2 separate regions of the Homo sapiens genome follow, and region 2 is linked to region 1. A link means that fine-mapping ties the variant in region 1 to the expression of a gene that starts in the linked region. Tissue or cell type: whole blood. Region 1 holds a variant in brackets; the other region holds the start of a gene. All regions are shown on one strand. Distances are from middle to middle.

What was found. PIP is the estimated chance that this variant, and not a neighbour inherited with it, causes the effect.
Region 2: PARP16 starts here. The variant in region 1 is fine-mapped to the expression of PARP16 in whole blood (TOPMed, PIP above 0.99).

Annotation. Positions count from the first base shown.
Region 1 is chr15:65,123,735-65,131,990 of GRCh38, forward strand. PDCD7 (programmed cell death 7) reads right to left here. Exons shown (of 5, transcript NM_005707.2): 2 at 5,298-5,436. Among named protein-coding and RNA genes, the nearest start is that of PDCD7, 5.9 kb to the right of the region's middle. The variant G/A (reference allele first, on the strand shown) is at 4,811.
Region 2 is chr15:65,283,840-65,291,839 of GRCh38, forward strand. It overlaps PARP16 (poly(ADP-ribose) polymerase family member 16), which reads right to left and starts at 3,044. Exons shown (of 6, transcript NM_001316943.2): 1 at 2,414-3,044. The coding sequence starts at 2,587. It overlaps SNORA24B (small nucleolar RNA, H/ACA box 24B), which reads right to left and starts at 1,752; the gene lies at 1,622-1,752. RefSeq lists a silencer at 2,729-3,288 and an enhancer at 3,439-3,488.

The DNA of each region.
Region 1 (8,256 bases):
GCTTCTACAGGTTTCCATTCACTCATTCTCAACTACAGAAACACTACAACTCAAATTTATCTTCTACTAAGTTGCCAGGCCAGTGTTTTTCAAGTATACACAAAATTCTTATACACTGACAAATTTAAGCTGTCACTCTGTTTTATAATAATCTAACGGTTTTGTTTCATTTCTTTACCTTTACAGGTAAATATTTTAGATTTTGTAAGCCATACAGTCTCTGTTGCAACTACTAAAATCTGTCTATGGCGAAATACACAGATACTCCATCATCCTATGTTAGCCTAAAGACCCCATGAAGAGATGTAGGCTGCTGAGCCTGGGCCACCAACCCACATCTCTCTCGGCCCCTCACTGATCACTCCCTGGTCAATGTAACATATTCCCTCAGAAATGGCACTCCTGGGGCGGGAGTGGTGGCTCACACCTGTAATCCCAACACTTTGGGAGGCTGAGGCGGGTAGATTACCTGAGGTCAGGAGTTTGAGACCAGCCTGACCAACGTGGTGAAACCCCATCTCTACTAAAAAAAATACAAAAATTAGCTGGGTGTGGTGGTGCATGCCTGTAATCTCAGCTACTCTGGAGGCTGAGGCAGGAGAATCGCTTGAACCTGGGAGGTGGAGGTTGCAGTGAGCCGAGATTGCACCACTGCACTCCAACAGGGGCAACAAGAGTGAAACTCCGTCTCAAAAAAAAAAAAGAAAGAAAGAAAGAAAAAGAAAAAGAAACAGCACTTCTCACACAGTCTTCCTCCTGGCACCATCTAGGTTCCCTCCACTTCTACCACTCACTGTCCACCTAGTCCTGCAGCTCCTAGACACCAATGCCTTTGCCTCTATTCCCCTTTAGCCACATGCCTGCAGTCCTGTTCAGTCTGTGGACCTTGGCATTATCAGAAAAAACTTTCTGCCTCTTAAATCTTAAACTTGATTATTCTCTTATCCAACTACAACTTTCTCCCTTATAGTACTTTTACTTCCTTCTCCCCAGAGACCCATTTGGCAGCTTCATCAAAACCTCCGGACCTGATGTATCAGATTCTATCCTTCTGCTACTCCTTCGCCACAAAACTAATGGTCACCCCACAAAGCAAAACCCCAACAGCCCCGTGCTCTGTGCTCACCTGTCAGCTACAGTACTACTGGAAGAGGTCATTTGATTGTGTCATCCATTGCCAATATATGTCAGCTGGACCCATAGCACCCCCTGCAACCATCTTCCACAAGTCTCTGTTGGCTCTCACCCATTCTTCACAGCAATTAAATCAAACCTTCACTGCTCTCCTAAAGCCCCACTTGTCTACTGGCGCTCAGCAAACCATTTACCCTGTTTCCCAGAGAAAACAGGCCAGCAGACAGGAAATCCCTCAAATATCTGTCCCCATTTACACACTCATGTGCATCACTACCTATCTTCATCTCCTTCATTTTCATGCTTGTGTAAGATGGGTCCTTCTTCACTTAAGTTAATCCCTCCACCTGGGATCTGAATCATCCTACCTTCCATGGGACCTTGAGCCATCAACTATTCTTCCTGCTTCTCTTTGACCCTTCCCCTTCTACTCACTCCTCTCAGCAATTTTAACCATGCTTAAGTTTTCCCCATGACCCAAAGACACACAACACCCCTCACCATCACCACTACCACACACCTTGCCAGATACTGATGTTGCTCTTTCCTTTTCTTCACAGGCAATCTTTTAATAAGTTGAATTATCTGTTTGCTTTTCTTGTATCATATTCATTCTCTAACCAACTGTAGTCTGGCTTCTACCCCCACCACTCCACTGAAATGCCCCTAGCATAGGTCACTAATGACCGGTTGGATACTAATTCCCATGGATGTTCCTTATTTCTTGATAATAAAAAGAATAATAATATGAAACATGTATATAGCATTTACTATGTGCCAGGACTGTTTTAAGTACTTTACACATATTTATTAATTTAATCCTCACGACACCCCATGGGTAGGTACTATCATTACTCCCTTTTTGCAGATGAGGAAACAAAGGTTCAGAGAAGCTCAAGTAACCTGTCCAAGTGTATTAATCTATTCTCACGCTGCCAATAAAGATATACCTGAAATTGGGTAATTTATAAAAGAGGTTTAATTGACTCACAGTTCTACATGGCTGGGGAGGCTTCACAATCATGGCGGAAGGTGAAGGAGGAGCAAAGTTATATCTTACATGGTGACAGGTAAAGAGGGCGTGTGCAAGGAAACTCTCCTTTATAAATCCATCAGATCTCATGAGACTTATGATCACAAGAACAGCATGTGAAAGACCTGTCCCCATGATTCAATTACCTCCCACCAAGTCCCTCCGACGACATGTGGGAATTATGGGAGCTACAATTCAAGATGAGATTTGGGTGGGGACACAGCCAAACCATATCACCAAGACTACACAATCTCTCTCTAAGCACTTGCCACTTTCCAGAAGGAAGCAGGGAGTCTATCTTTTCCTCCCATCTCTCTGACCTCTCTTGGTCTCTTTTTTGCTCTCTTCATCTTCTACCTTGATTTTGACATTCCCTATGATTTTGTCTTTTTGGCCCTCATCTCATGCTGTACAATCTCCTTAAGGTCATTCTGACTCATGGCTACATGCTAATGAACTCTTATCCAGGATGTACCACACACACCTCAAACTCGACAGGTCCCCAACTGAACTTGTCAACCCTAAACCTGTTCCTCCTCCCTTGTTTTCCTTCTTAATTAGAATGGTATCGGCCAGGCACAGTGGCTCACACCCTTAATCCTAGAACTTTGGGAGGCCAAGATGGGAGAATCGCTTGAGCCCAGGAGTTCGAGACCAGCTTGGGCAACATGGCGAAACTCTATCTCTACAAAAAATTTAAAAATTAGCCAGGTGTGGTGGTGTGCACCTGTAGTCTCTACTACTCAGGAGGCTGAGGTGGGAGGATCGCTCCTGCCTGGGAGTATAAGGCTGCAGTGAATTATGATTGCACCACTGCACTTCGGCTTGGGCGACAGTGCAAGACCCTGTCTTTTAAAAAAAAAAAAAGCAAAAAAAAAAAGCTATCTTCACTTATTCAGTAGATGAGGCTAGAATCTGGAAGACATTTCATTGTTTTTCCCTTTAGTTCCTGTACTCTGAGTTCCTTAAATTATTTATTTATATGTACATGGGTATATACACATATACCTTTATTCATTATCTCTCAATTCTTTGACTTGAGAATTATTCACTAATAATTCTGAATTACTCAATTATTCACTATCACTTGAATTACTCATTACCTCTCAATTCTCCTACACACTGACGTCACTCAGCTTATGCTTCCATACTACCCGTGCCCAATAGCCTTACCCATCTCTCTGCCCTTCTCTCTCTCTCCTGGATGCTCCAAAACTTTCTCTGCTCTACTGGCACTGATCTTTGCCATCATTTCACTTAAAAACTTTCAGCGGGGCCAGGCGTGGTGGCTCACGCCTGTAATCCCAGCACTTTGGGAGGCCGAGGCAGGTGGATCATGAGGTCAGGAGATCGAGACCATCCTGGCTAACAAGGTGAAACCCCGTCTCTACTAAAAATACAAAAAATTAGCCGGGCGCGGTGGTGGGCGCCTGTAGTCCCAGCTACTCGGGAGGCTGAGGCAGGAGAATGGCGTGAACCCGGGAAGCGGAGCTTGCAGTGAGCCGAGATTGCGCCACTGCAGTCCGCAGTCCGGCCTGGGCGACAGAGCGAGACTCCGTCTCAAAAAAAAAAAAAAAAAAAAACTTTCAGCGGTTCCCCAAAGCTTTAAGTATAAGTGAGAACTCTAGCATAGCCCATAAGACAATTTGCAACGTGGTCCTGCTTAAACATCCAGCCTCATCATTCAGCACTTAGTTGGAGGTGCACACATCTTGAAGAGAGAAGTTAGCTGCTCATTTTAAATATGCATGCAACCAGCTGCTACTTACCAAATCATTTTACATTCAAGTCACTTAATGCCACAAAGTCTGTTTATTTCTATAGATAATGATTTTCCTAAAATTTCCTCCTCCTTTTGGACCAAAGTGAGGAAGATTAATATTGGGAAATGCTGGTAAATTCACTTGGCAGAAGTTTACTGAGCACTCACCTCATAGAGGATGTGAGGTGTGGGAATATTAAATAGCTCTCAGGTTTTGCCTTCTAGTGAAAAAGAGATGGGTAGACAAAGCAGATGCTAACTTCCCTCTGATTTACAAATGCCCTGAGAGTACCACAATGGAGGCATCTGTTTCTGAGGTCTGGATGTGAATTAGCCGCTCTGAAGGCTAGTATGCAAAAGCCAATCACTTAGCTAGCAAACGAGCCTGGGTGAATACAAAATGGTCATATTCCAACACAACTTTCTTAAGGGTCTAAAAGAATCCCAGTTTTCATTTACATTTTAAACAACACATGGGAAATCATTTGTTAGAGTGGCATTTGCTAATTTGTACACTCTCAAATATCTCTGGTGAATACCAAAGGCCTACAATCTACTAAATAAATCAGCATGTGGTCCAAAGCAGGTGCAAGTGAGAAGCAACAGGAGGTTACCTCAGCCCAGATCAGGGAAGGATGAAGGATGCTGCATGTGTATTTGGTTTTGAATAGTGAGATCTTAAAATGGCAAAGATGGGACTGAGGGCCCTCCAGATGAACAGAATGACAACAGCTAAGATCCAGACAGGCAAATGGAAAGCACAATTGGGTAACTTCTAGAAAGCCAGCATGGTTGAAACAAACTTCGGTGGAGAAGCTTGAACTGCCTGGCTATAGTGTCTGGTGCTTCCTCCAGAGGCAAGAAGAGACCAGTGACATGAA[G/A]GGAAGGTGGGGAAATCCACACAGTCTGCAATCCCTGCCCTGTCCAACCATTCATACCTCTTCAAATAGAAATAATTCAGGTTTGAAATGTATCTGAAGAAGCATGCCAAGTTTTCAACACTTTCTGGAGCAACAAGTAAGGGTGAAAAGCTTTCACTCTGGCACAAGGCAAAGGTGACTAGCCATGACAAGCCCACTCAGAAGAGTGTGGCCAGAAATGCCCAGGGTAGGAATGATAAGTCAAGGGGAAGACAGTGCAGTGGGTTCCCACACTTGCCTCTCTTTTCAATCTGGGCTACCACAGGCTAAACATCTTCTGAGGCTTCCTGCTTCAGAAGTTCTGACCTACTTGCTGACAAGCCCAGTTACCCGACAAGGTGAAAATCATGAAGTTTCAAGTATTTTTCCCTCAATAATATTTGGGGTGGGAGGAGCTAGAGTAAAGAAGGGGAAGGGAACAAGGAAAGAAATGCAAAGCCACAGTTACCTTTCCTCGCTGCAGCCTCTTTCCTCAGTTTCCTCAATTTCTCCAAAGCCCGTAGAATGTCCACCATTCTTTTGGTATCTGCTTGTTTTTTCCTCACTTCAGATAGTACGCCATCAGCGGCTGCTTTGAGTTCCTGCTCCTGGAAGAGAAACAAAGCCCATGAGACCTCGTATTAGGAACAAACTTACAGCAGAGAATAGCTGCCCAGTGGTTAGATTTTAAAGGATCAGACAGTCTCCAGGTTAAGAGAGACTCTATTGAATCTCCATCCCAATTTCTTAGGCCTTGCACAACTCCCCTCTAGCTAAGAGGTTATCCCCCTCCACTGATGGTACAACCTTCATCTTAAAGGAGAACCTCTCCTCTCTGTATCTTCCACATAGCACTGGTTTTGTTTCTTCCTCAGTGTTTCTCAAAGTGTAGTGCAGAGATCAGGTGTCCAACTTACCTTGTTAAGCTGAGACTTGTTAAAAATGCAGATTCCCTAGACCTGAAGATTCAGATTCCCAGGAAGGATAAGGAATGTGGCTGGAAAGGCTGAGACCTCTACAAAGGTCTCTTAGTGACAACCTATGTTTGTGTTCCACTGCTCTAAAGTCCCAAGGATCTCTTCCACATGACAGCCTTTCAAATACCAAAGATTGCTGTCCTACTCTTGACTTAGTTCACATATAGACTAAATAACCCCAGTTCCTCAAGCCACTCCTCATAAGACTCTGTCACCAATATCCTCACCATGGAAGCTGGGCATAATGGCATGTGTCCCTAGCTATTCCTACTCAGGAGGCTAAGGCGAGAGGATCACTTTAAGACCAGGAGTTCAAACCTACAGGCTATGACAAACCCGCTGCACTCCAGCCTGGGCAACAGAGTGAAACTTTGTATTTTTTTTTTTTTTTTTTTTTTTTTTGAGACAGGGTCTCATTCTGTTGCCCAGGCTGGAGTGTAGTGGTGTGATCACAGCATCACCATGCCCAGTTAATTGTGTTTTTTGTAGAGACGAGGTTTCTCCATGTTGCCCAGGCTGGTCTGGAACTCCTGGGCTCAAGTAATCTGCCTGCCTCAGCCTCCCAAAATGCTGGGATTACAGGAGTGAGCCACTTCGCACCCGCCCCCAACCCTCTTTTTTTTTTTTTTTTTTTTTTTGAGATGGAGTCTCGCTGTTGTCCAGGCTGGAGGGCAATGGCGCGATCTCGGCTTACTGCAACCTCCGCCTCCTGGGTTCAAGCGATTCCCTGCTTCAGCCTCCCAATTAGCTGGGTTTACAGGCTCCTGCCACCATGCCCAGCTAATTTTTTGTATTTTTAGTAGGGACAGGGTTTCACCACGTTGGCCAGGCTGGTCCCGAACTCCTGACCTCAGGTGATCCGCCCGCCTTGGCCTCTCAAAGTGTTGGGATTACAGGCATGACCACGGCGCCCAGCCCCAACCCTGTCTCCTTAAAACAATAAAATAAATAAAATAAAAAGTTCACCATGGGTGGTGGAGAGAATCCTCTTGCCTAAAGTGCTCTCCCCCATCTGTCAAATAAGTGCCTGTAATTCCACCACTACAGCTACAGCCAACACCAAGCTGTTTCACTTCTCCATTTGGATTACTCTGTTTCCCTGGAACTGCACCTATTACCTTCACCTGGGTGACTTTTCCTTTAAGACTCAGCTTATAGCCAGGAGTGGTGGTGTGCACCTGTAATCCCAGCTACTCTGGAGGCTAAGGCAGGAGAATCGCTTGAACCTGGGAGGCAGAGGTTGCAGCGAGCCAAGACGGCATCACTGCACTTCAGTCCGGGCAACAGTGCGAGACTCTGTCTCAGAAAAAAAAAAAAAGACTCAGCTTACGTGTCATTGTATCATTTGGGAAGCATTCCCTCAGTAAATCAGATGTTCCTTCTTTGGGCTTTTACAGCACCTATAGTTGAATTCCTAACACACACCACGCTATACTGACATGATCTCCCACAGATCTCTAAGCCAGGGGTCAACAAACCCCAGGCCACGGATGGTAACCAGTCCATGGCCTGTTAGGAACCAGATCACACAGCAAAAGATGAGGCAGGCGAGCAAGTGAAGCTTCATCTCCATTTACAGCCACTCCCCCATTGCTTGCATTACCACCTGAGCTCCGCCTCCTGTCAGATCAGCAACAGCAGCATTACATTCTCATAGGAGCACAAAGAAGTGAACTGCGCATGGAAGGGATCTAGGTTGTGGGCTCCTTATGAGAATCTAAAGCCTGATGATTTGTCACTGTCTCCTATCACCCCCAGATGGGACTGTCTAGTTGCAGGAAAACAATCTCAGGGCTCTCACTGTTTCCACATTATGGTGAGTTGTATAATTATTTCATTATGTATTATAATGTAATAATAATAGAAATAATGAGGAAGAGGAAAGGGAACCCCAGAGGCAATCAAAGGTAATGAAAATGCCTTAGACGGCCAGGTGCAGTGGCTCACGCCTGTAATCCCAGCACTTTGGCAGGCTGAGGCGGGTGGATCACCTGAGGTCAGGAGTTCGAGACCAGTCTGACCAACATGGAGAAACCCTGTCTCTACTAAAAATACAAAATTAGCTGGGGTGTAGTGGTGCATGCCTGTAATCCCTGCTACTCGGGAGGCTGAGGCAGGAGAATCGCTTGAACCCGGGAGGTGGAGGTTGTGGTGAACCAAGATCATGCCATTGCACTCCAGCCTGGGCAACAAGAGCGAAACTCCATCTCAAAAAAAGAAAGAAAGAAAATGCCTTAGAAAACCATCTGAACAATTTCCAGTTTTACCCTGGCCCTGCTTAAAGAGTCTGAGATCAATACGCTTTGGAATTAGACAACTTGGGATCAAATATGGGAAACTGCCACAAACTCGTTGTGTGACTGTTGGCAAGTTAACCTCTCTATGCAACTTCCTAACCTGTAAAATTAGCATAATACTTCCTACTTCTCAAGGCTGTTATAAAGATTCAAA
Region 2 (8,000 bases), 160 kb after region 1:
CCAAGGTCCTGATACACCACACTCAGAAAATTGAGTATCTGAACCTGCAAGAACAAATCTCGAGGGAAGTCAGTCAATTTGCCTCTTTCTCCAACCTCCCACTTCCGGTACCCTGAAACGCCTGTGCACTGTGGTCACCACTTGAGATGCCCTCGACACATCATTAGGTGGGCTACCAGGACCAGGTTGGGCCAAGAGGCTCAGCCTTTGTCCCTCAACCTCCTAGGAATGATAGCAAAGGAGGAACCAAACACTGATGATTTCATCAGAGATAACGCTAAACACGTGTTGATTCTAAATACCTCCTTTAATCTATCAATGTGGTTCGTGCCATTAACTGATTGCCTAATATTGAACTAATTTTGCATTCCTGGGATGAACCCAACCTGGTCATAAGGAATTACCCTTTTTTATACATTGCTAGCTTTAAGATCCTAATACCTTGAAGATAATTTTTGCATTCATACTCATGACATTGGCCTATAATTTTCTTTCCTCTTTTTTTTTTTTTTTTTTTTTTTTTGAGACAGTCTTGCTCTGTTGCCCAGGCTGGAGTGCAGTGGGGCGATCTCGGCTCACTGCTACCTCTGCCTCCCAGGTCCCAGTTCAAGCAATTCTCCTGCCTCAGCCTCCTGAGTAGCTGGGATTACCAGCATGCACCACCATAATGGTGAGACAGGGTTTTACCATATTGTCCAGGCTGGTCTTGAACTCCTGACCTCGTGATCCACCCGCCTCAGCCTCCCAAAGTGCTGGGATTACAGGTGTGAGCCACCGCACTCGGCCTATAATTTTCTTTTTTTGTATCACCCTTATCAGATTTAGGGTCAAGGTTATGCTAGCCTCTTTTTTAATACTCTGTGTAAAACTGGGAATTACTTATTCCCTCAGTGATTGCTACAACTCACCAATGACACCAGCTACGTCCAGAGTTTTCTTTGAGGGAAAATCCTTGACTACTAATCCAACGTCTTTTTTTTTTTTTTTTTTTTTTTTGAGAGAGAGACTTGCTGTGTTGCCCAGGCTGGAGGGCAGTGGTGTGATTACAGCTCATTGCAGCCTCGACCTCTTGGACTCAAGCCATCCTCCCGCCTCAGCCTCCCAAGTAGCTGGGACTACAGGCGTGCATCACCACACTCAGCTAATTTAAAGAAATCTTTTTTGCCTAGGCTGGTCTCAAACGATCCTCTTGCCTTGCCTTCCCAAAGTCCTTGGGATTACAGGCATGAGCCACTCAGCCTTTTTCTTCTTTTTCTACAATAGTCTAGAAAAGTTCGCCCAATAACCTGGCACCCTCCAGGTTTTTTTTTTTTTTTTAATGGAGTTTCATTCTTGTTGCCCAGGCTGGACTGCAATGGCGCAATCTCGGCTCACCACAACGTCCGCCTCCCGGGTTCAAGCGATTCTCCTGTCTCAGCTTCCAGAGTAGCTGGGATTACAGGCATGCGCCACCACGCCCGGCTAACTTTTTGTATTTTTAATAGAGACGGGATTTCTCCATGTTGGTCAGGTTGGTCTTGAACTCCCAACCTCAGGTAATCTGCCCGCCTTGGCCTCCCAAAGTGCTGGGATTACAAGCATGAGCCACCGAGCCTGGCCCCTCCAAGTTTTTAACAGTGAAGAATGTTACTTGTGCAAGTCAGAATCTGATACCAATTAAATGGTGACAGCTTTGCTGGTAAACAAGAATATGCTCTTCCATGGCAAGGAAGGGAGACTGCCACACTTGACAGGTCCCAAAGATACATGGAGTTCAGTGTCTTTAATGAATATCAGCTATTGGCGATTTCAATTTTCTGCTTTTTATTGAATCGATTTTGGTAAGTTATATTTTTCTAGGCAATTCCAAACATTTGGATTATAAGGATAACTGATATCTTGAATGCTGACCCAGAGGTGAACTCTGCAAAAAAAGTGCCTGGTGAATCAGAGAAATAACAGCTTACATATGTACTGGATGTTACAGTTTATAAAAGTACTGCCCATAGATCACCTCATCTGAAGACCAATGTCTGGGCGGCTTTGGTGACTTTTTGGTGTCTAATTATTTGCAAAAGGATGGATAACTTTCTAGCTAAGCAAAACAGCTGATTCACATCAACCCTATTCCTGGCCAGGCTAGAAAATCTGTGGAGGACTATGCAACTATTCCTCACTTCAGTCCTCGGAGTCATTTGTCATTGACAGGAGAGAAGCAGCCACCAAGTGCCTTGGGAGTGAGCGTTGACATGAGGGTGTTAGCAGTGTTCTTAGCTCATGGAAACCTTCCCCAAGGCAAGGCAAGACCAAGCTGGGAATGGAAAGTCTGGCGGCTGTCATGTTTACTAATGCGGATGGAACTGCCTCTACCTGTGGTTCCACAGGGCACTTGGTCCAGGACGCAGTGGGCAGCGCCAGGACAAAGCACACTCACCAGGGCTTCAAAGTCCTTACAGTCGCCGCGGGCGTAGGACGCGGGGAAGGGCCGCAGCACCGAGTCGCGCTTGTAGCTCTGCAGGGCCGAGGCGAAGAGGCTGCACCGGAGGTCGGCGGCCAGCATGTCGCGGCCCGCCGCCTCCCTGGCGGCCGCCCAGCCTGAGGGCTGCATCCCAGGTCACTGCGCGTTGCCGGGGTAGACGCGCTGGTTAGGGGCAAGGGCGAGCGTGCGTTCAGCGCGGGGGCTGGGCCCGCGGACAATGGGCCGTCAGGGGCCGGGTTCCCAAGCCTGGGGTGGAGCTAGGCAGGGGGCTGAGATGACAGGGGTGAGAACGTGCCGACAAGTGTCCTCTGCCGGGGTCTGGGCCGCGGCTCGCCGCCGAAGAGAGAGACCGAGGCCTGGACCGCGGGTCGGCGGGGAGGTTGGGCCCAGGGATAAAGGAACTGGGGCTGGTGGGGGGGAGGGGTTCCCGGCCTAGGGGAAGGGCTATGACAATGGAATGACAACCGCGGGAACGTGCTGACACGTGTCCTCCGCGGAGGCCTGGGGCGGGAAGCAGCCCCCGGGGGACGGCGGGCAGAGCCCACTCTCCGCGACGGGCGAGGCTGCTGCGCCGCGCGCGCCTTCCTGCCCCGCCTCCCGCCGCGCCGCCGAAGTCCCGCCTCTCGCCAAGCTGCCCGCGGCGCCACCTGTCTTCCGCCTGCAGCTCACGTCCGCTTGCCTTGCCCGGCCTACCTCCCCTCCCGCCGCCGCGCTCCGCCCGGCCCAGCCGAGGGCCCGCCCCTTCGCGCCCCAGCCAGCTCCACCGTACGGGTTGTGCCCGCCCCTCCCAGACCCCGATCACCCGCAGCTACGAGAGTTGCCGCCGCCAGTGTGTGCCGGGCGACGTCGCCCACGCCCCTGCCAGCCATCCTCACAGCAGCAGCAGCCCTGGTAGAAATTGATGTGGGCACCCTCTCGACCCGCCCCTGTACTTGTCTTTGTCCCAGCTCTGCGGACTGAGCCTACCTCTCTTCCTTGGGGTATTAATGCTACCTATTGTCTCTCTTGAATCTTTTCCCTCCAAAACTGCACAGAAGGAGCCATTTAACACCCAGGGAAACTGAGGCTTAGAGTGCTGCAATGCTTGCCCAAGATCCCACAGCCAGATGGGTAAATCTAGGATTCACACCGAGATCTTTGGAAAACCAAAAGACTTTTCCTCTGCTTTTCAGCCTCCAGAATTCTCTGAATTGCTTAAGTCTCTGGCCTCAAATGCCCCAAGATCCTCCTTGGGAGACCTCTCTGACAGGGAGCTTGGGGGAGAGCAGAGGGGCATTGACTTAACTCTGCTGGAGGGTAAGGACTAGACTCCCATCCCCTCTCCCTACTCAGAACCTTCATTAGAGAAAACCCCAAAGTGTGACCTCATGGTCACATGCAAATCTAAACACAGACCATTGTGCTTAAACCAACACACCGCACACACTCCTACCCTGCAGGATCTTCTGAGGAAGAAACTTCTCCTTCTGCATCCAGGCTGTGCTGGGCCCTGGACTCAGAGGAGAGGTGGTCCCATGCCATTGGATTGCATCTATGACTTCGGGAGGTAGGGCGAAGACTGGTCCCCCAGACACCACAGAGCTTCCCATCTTCTTTTGCCAGGTAAAGGTTGGGGGCTGCTCCCAGGAGCCCACATCAAATCTGTTTGCTCTGAGGCCTAGAACCACAAGGCCCCTAGTGCTTCAAAAGCCATGGGGGTTCTCATAGGACCCAGGAACTCTAAGGTGGCTTCTGAAGCTCAGACCCCAGGAAGGGAGAGCTTGGAGTGGGTCAGGAGACCAGGGAACCATCTCTCATTCCACCTCTTCTTCATTGCAGGCCCTTAGACAAAAGCCACCCTCTGATACCTCCTTGGCCTCAAGAATTGTTTGTTGGGTGGATATATAAAATTTGCTTATCTGAAGATATTTGTCACATATGATATGAGAATCATAGTGATAATATTCACATCACAGGGTGGTGTGGAAGGGCCTCTGATGGCCAGCATTCTCATGACTTAGCTCATGCAGAATATTAGAATTCTTTTTAATTCTTGTCAATTCCATAGACACAAAGTTGAATTTCATTATAGTTTTAATTTGCATTTACTTGATAGTGAAACTGAATGTTCTTATGTTTACTTTATTCTTCTAGATTTTATCAGAATTTGCTAAGGTGGTCTCAGAACCACATTTCTTGTGGAGGGGTTTCAGCCCTGCTTATATAAATTTGATATAATCCACAGACCATACAATTCACCCATTTAAAGTGTACAATTTAATAGTTTTTAGTACATTCACAGATATGTGAAACTGTCACAATCAATTTTAGAATATTTTTATCACCTCAGAAAGGAACTCTCTACACCTAGTCTATCAATGCTCTACCCACCCTACCATGTCGCCCACTCCTAAGCAATCACCAACATGTTTGTTTTTTGTTTAAGAGACTGGGCCTCACTGTTACCTCGGCTAGAGCACAGTGGCTATTCACAAGCATGATCATAGCACATTGCAGCCTAGAACTTCTGGCCTCAAATGATCCTCCCGGCTCAGCCTCCAGAGTACCTCAGACTACAGGCTCACACCACCACACCTGGCTTAGAGAACACATTTTGTTTACTCCTGTCCTTTTAAATTCATTGAGGTTTGTCTATTGCCTAGCATATGGCCTATCCTGGAGAATGTTTCATGTGAATGTATATATTCTGCTGCTGTTAGGTCAAGTGTTCTATGGATGTCTGTTAGGTCTAGTTGATTTATATTGTTTTCAAATCTTAGATTTCCTTGTTGATCTTCTGTTTATTCTATTCATTATTGAAAGTGGGGACCAGGCACGTGGCTCACACCTGTAATCCCAGCACTTTGGGAGGCCGAAGTGGGCAAATCACCTGAGGTCAGGAGTTCGAGACCAGCCTGGCCACTATGGTTAAACCCTGTCTCTAATAAAGATACAAAAATTAGCCAGGCATAGTGGCACGTGCCTGTAGCCCCAGCTACTCGGGAGGTTGAAGCCCGAGAACTGTTTGAACCTGGGAGGCGGAGGTTGCAGTGAGTTGAGATCATGCCACTACACTCCAGCTTGGGTGACAGAGTAAGATTTCATCTCCCAAAAAAAAAAAAAAAAAAAAAAAAAAAATCACTGACAGGAAAGATATCCACCTGAACAGGTTTTTAATGCCGATGAACATGCCCTATTCTGAAAGAAGATGCCACAAAAGACACTTATTAGTAAGGAAGAAAATCGAGCACCAGGATTTAAGGCAGAAAGGGATAGGCTGACTATTGTTCTGTGCAAATTTGGTCAGGTTTATTATCAGAACTTCCCTTATCTGTAAAGCTGATAACCCCCAAGCCTTGAAGAGAAAAGATAAACACAAGCTGCCACTCTTGGTACAACAAGAAGGCCTGGACAAGAAGAACCCTTCCTCTGGATTGGTTGAATGCTTTGTCCTTGAAGTCAGGAAGTATTATATCTTGCCAGTAAGGAGCTGCCTTTTATTTATTGAGACGGAGTCTTGCTCTGTTGCCCAGGCTGGAGTGCAGTGGTGCGATCTTGATCTTGGCTCACTGTAACCTCCACCTCCCAGGTTCAAGCAATTATCCTGCCTCAGCCTCCCGAGTAGCTGGGATTACAGGTGTGTGCCGCCACGCTTCGCTAATTTTTATATTTTTAGTAGAGATGGGGTTTCATGATGTTGGCCAAGCTGGTCTCGAACTCCCAACCTCAAGTGATCCACCTGCCTCAACCTCCCAAAGTGTTGGGATTACAGGCGTGAGCCACCATGCCCGGCCAGCAGGAGCTTTTCAAGTTCTTTTGATATTGGACAATGTTCTTGGCCACCCGGAACCCCGAGTTCAACACTGAAGGTGCAAGTGGTCTACTTGCCTCTGAATAGGGACGATGTCTGTAATTCATCCTCTAGATCACGGGGTCATAAGAATCTTTAATGCTTATTACACCCAGTACTCTATGGAAGGGATCGTCAACACTATGGGAGAGGACCTCAACCAAGAGAACATCATGAACGTCTGGAAGGATTACACCATTGAAGATGTTGTAGAAAAACATGTGAAGGCCATCAAACCTGAAACAATAAATTCATGCTGGAGAAAAATTGTGTGCAGATGTTGTGCATGACTTCACGAGATTTATGACAGAGACTGTCAAGGAAATCAAGAAAGAGATTGTGGATATGCAAAAGAGATGTGTGTGGGGTGAAGGGTTCAAGATATGAATCTTGGAGAAATCCAAGGGCTACTAGATGTCACACTAGAGGAACGAATAGATGACTTGGTGGAGATGAGTGCCTTCGAACCAGTGCAAGACGATGAAGATGATGTAGAAGACGCAGTGCCGGAGAACAACTGACATTAGACAATCTGGCGGAAGTGTTCCTAGTATTCAAGACTGCTTTTACAACGTGGACCCTTCTATGACATGGGCACTGAAACTAAAGCGAGTATGCCTGCCTCCCTTCTACCTCCACCTCTTCCTCCTCTGCCACTCCTCAGACAGTAAAACCAACCTCTCCTCCCTGTCCTCAACATACCCAACGTGAAGACAATGAGGAAGACTTTTACGATGACCCACTTCCACTTAATGAATAGTAAATATATGTTCTTTTTGTTTATTTAGTGGGGTTTTTTAATAGTAAATATATATATATATATATATTTTGAGACAAGGTCTCACTCTGTCACCAGGCTGGAGTACAGTGGTGTGACCTCACTGCAACCTCTGCCTCCCAGGTTCAAGCAATTCTCGTGCCTCAGCCTCCTGAGTAGCTAGGACTATATAGATGCATGATGCCATCCCCAGCAATTTTTTTTTCTTTCTTCTTTTTCTTTTTCAGTAGAGACAAAATCTTGAACAGGCTGGTGTTGAACTCCTGGCCTCAAGTGGTCCTTCTGCCTTGGCCTCCCAAAGTGCTGGGTTTACAGGTGTTAGCCACCATGCCCAGCCTATTTTCTCTTCTTCTTTAATAACATTTTCCTTCCTCTACCTCATTGTAGTAAGAATACAGTATATAATACGTTTAACACACATAATATGTGTTAATCAACTGTTATCTGTAAGGCTGTCGGTCAACAGTAGACTATTTGTAGTTAAGTTTAGGGGGAGTCAAAAGTTATATGCATCAGCATGGTGGCACATGCCTGTAATCTCAGCACTTTCGGAGGCCGAGGCGGGCGGATCACTTGAGGCCAGGAGTTCTAGACCAGCCTGGCCAAAATGGCAAAACCCCGTCTTTACTAAAAATACAAGAATTAGCTGGGCGTGGTGGCACATGCCTGTAGTCCCAGCTACTCAGGAGGCTGAGGCAGGAGAATCGCTTGAGCCTAGGAGGCGGAGGTTGCAGTGAGCCGAGATCAAGCCATTGCACTCCAGCTTGGACCACGGTGAGACCCCATCTCCCCACCAAAAAAAAAAAAAAGTTACATGCAAATTTTCAACTGCGAGAGGGGTCGGCAACTCTAACCCCCCATGTTGTTCAAGGGTCAACTGTATATCTGTTGTTTTTTTCTTTTTTGAGATGGAGTCTCGCTCTGTCACCAGGCTG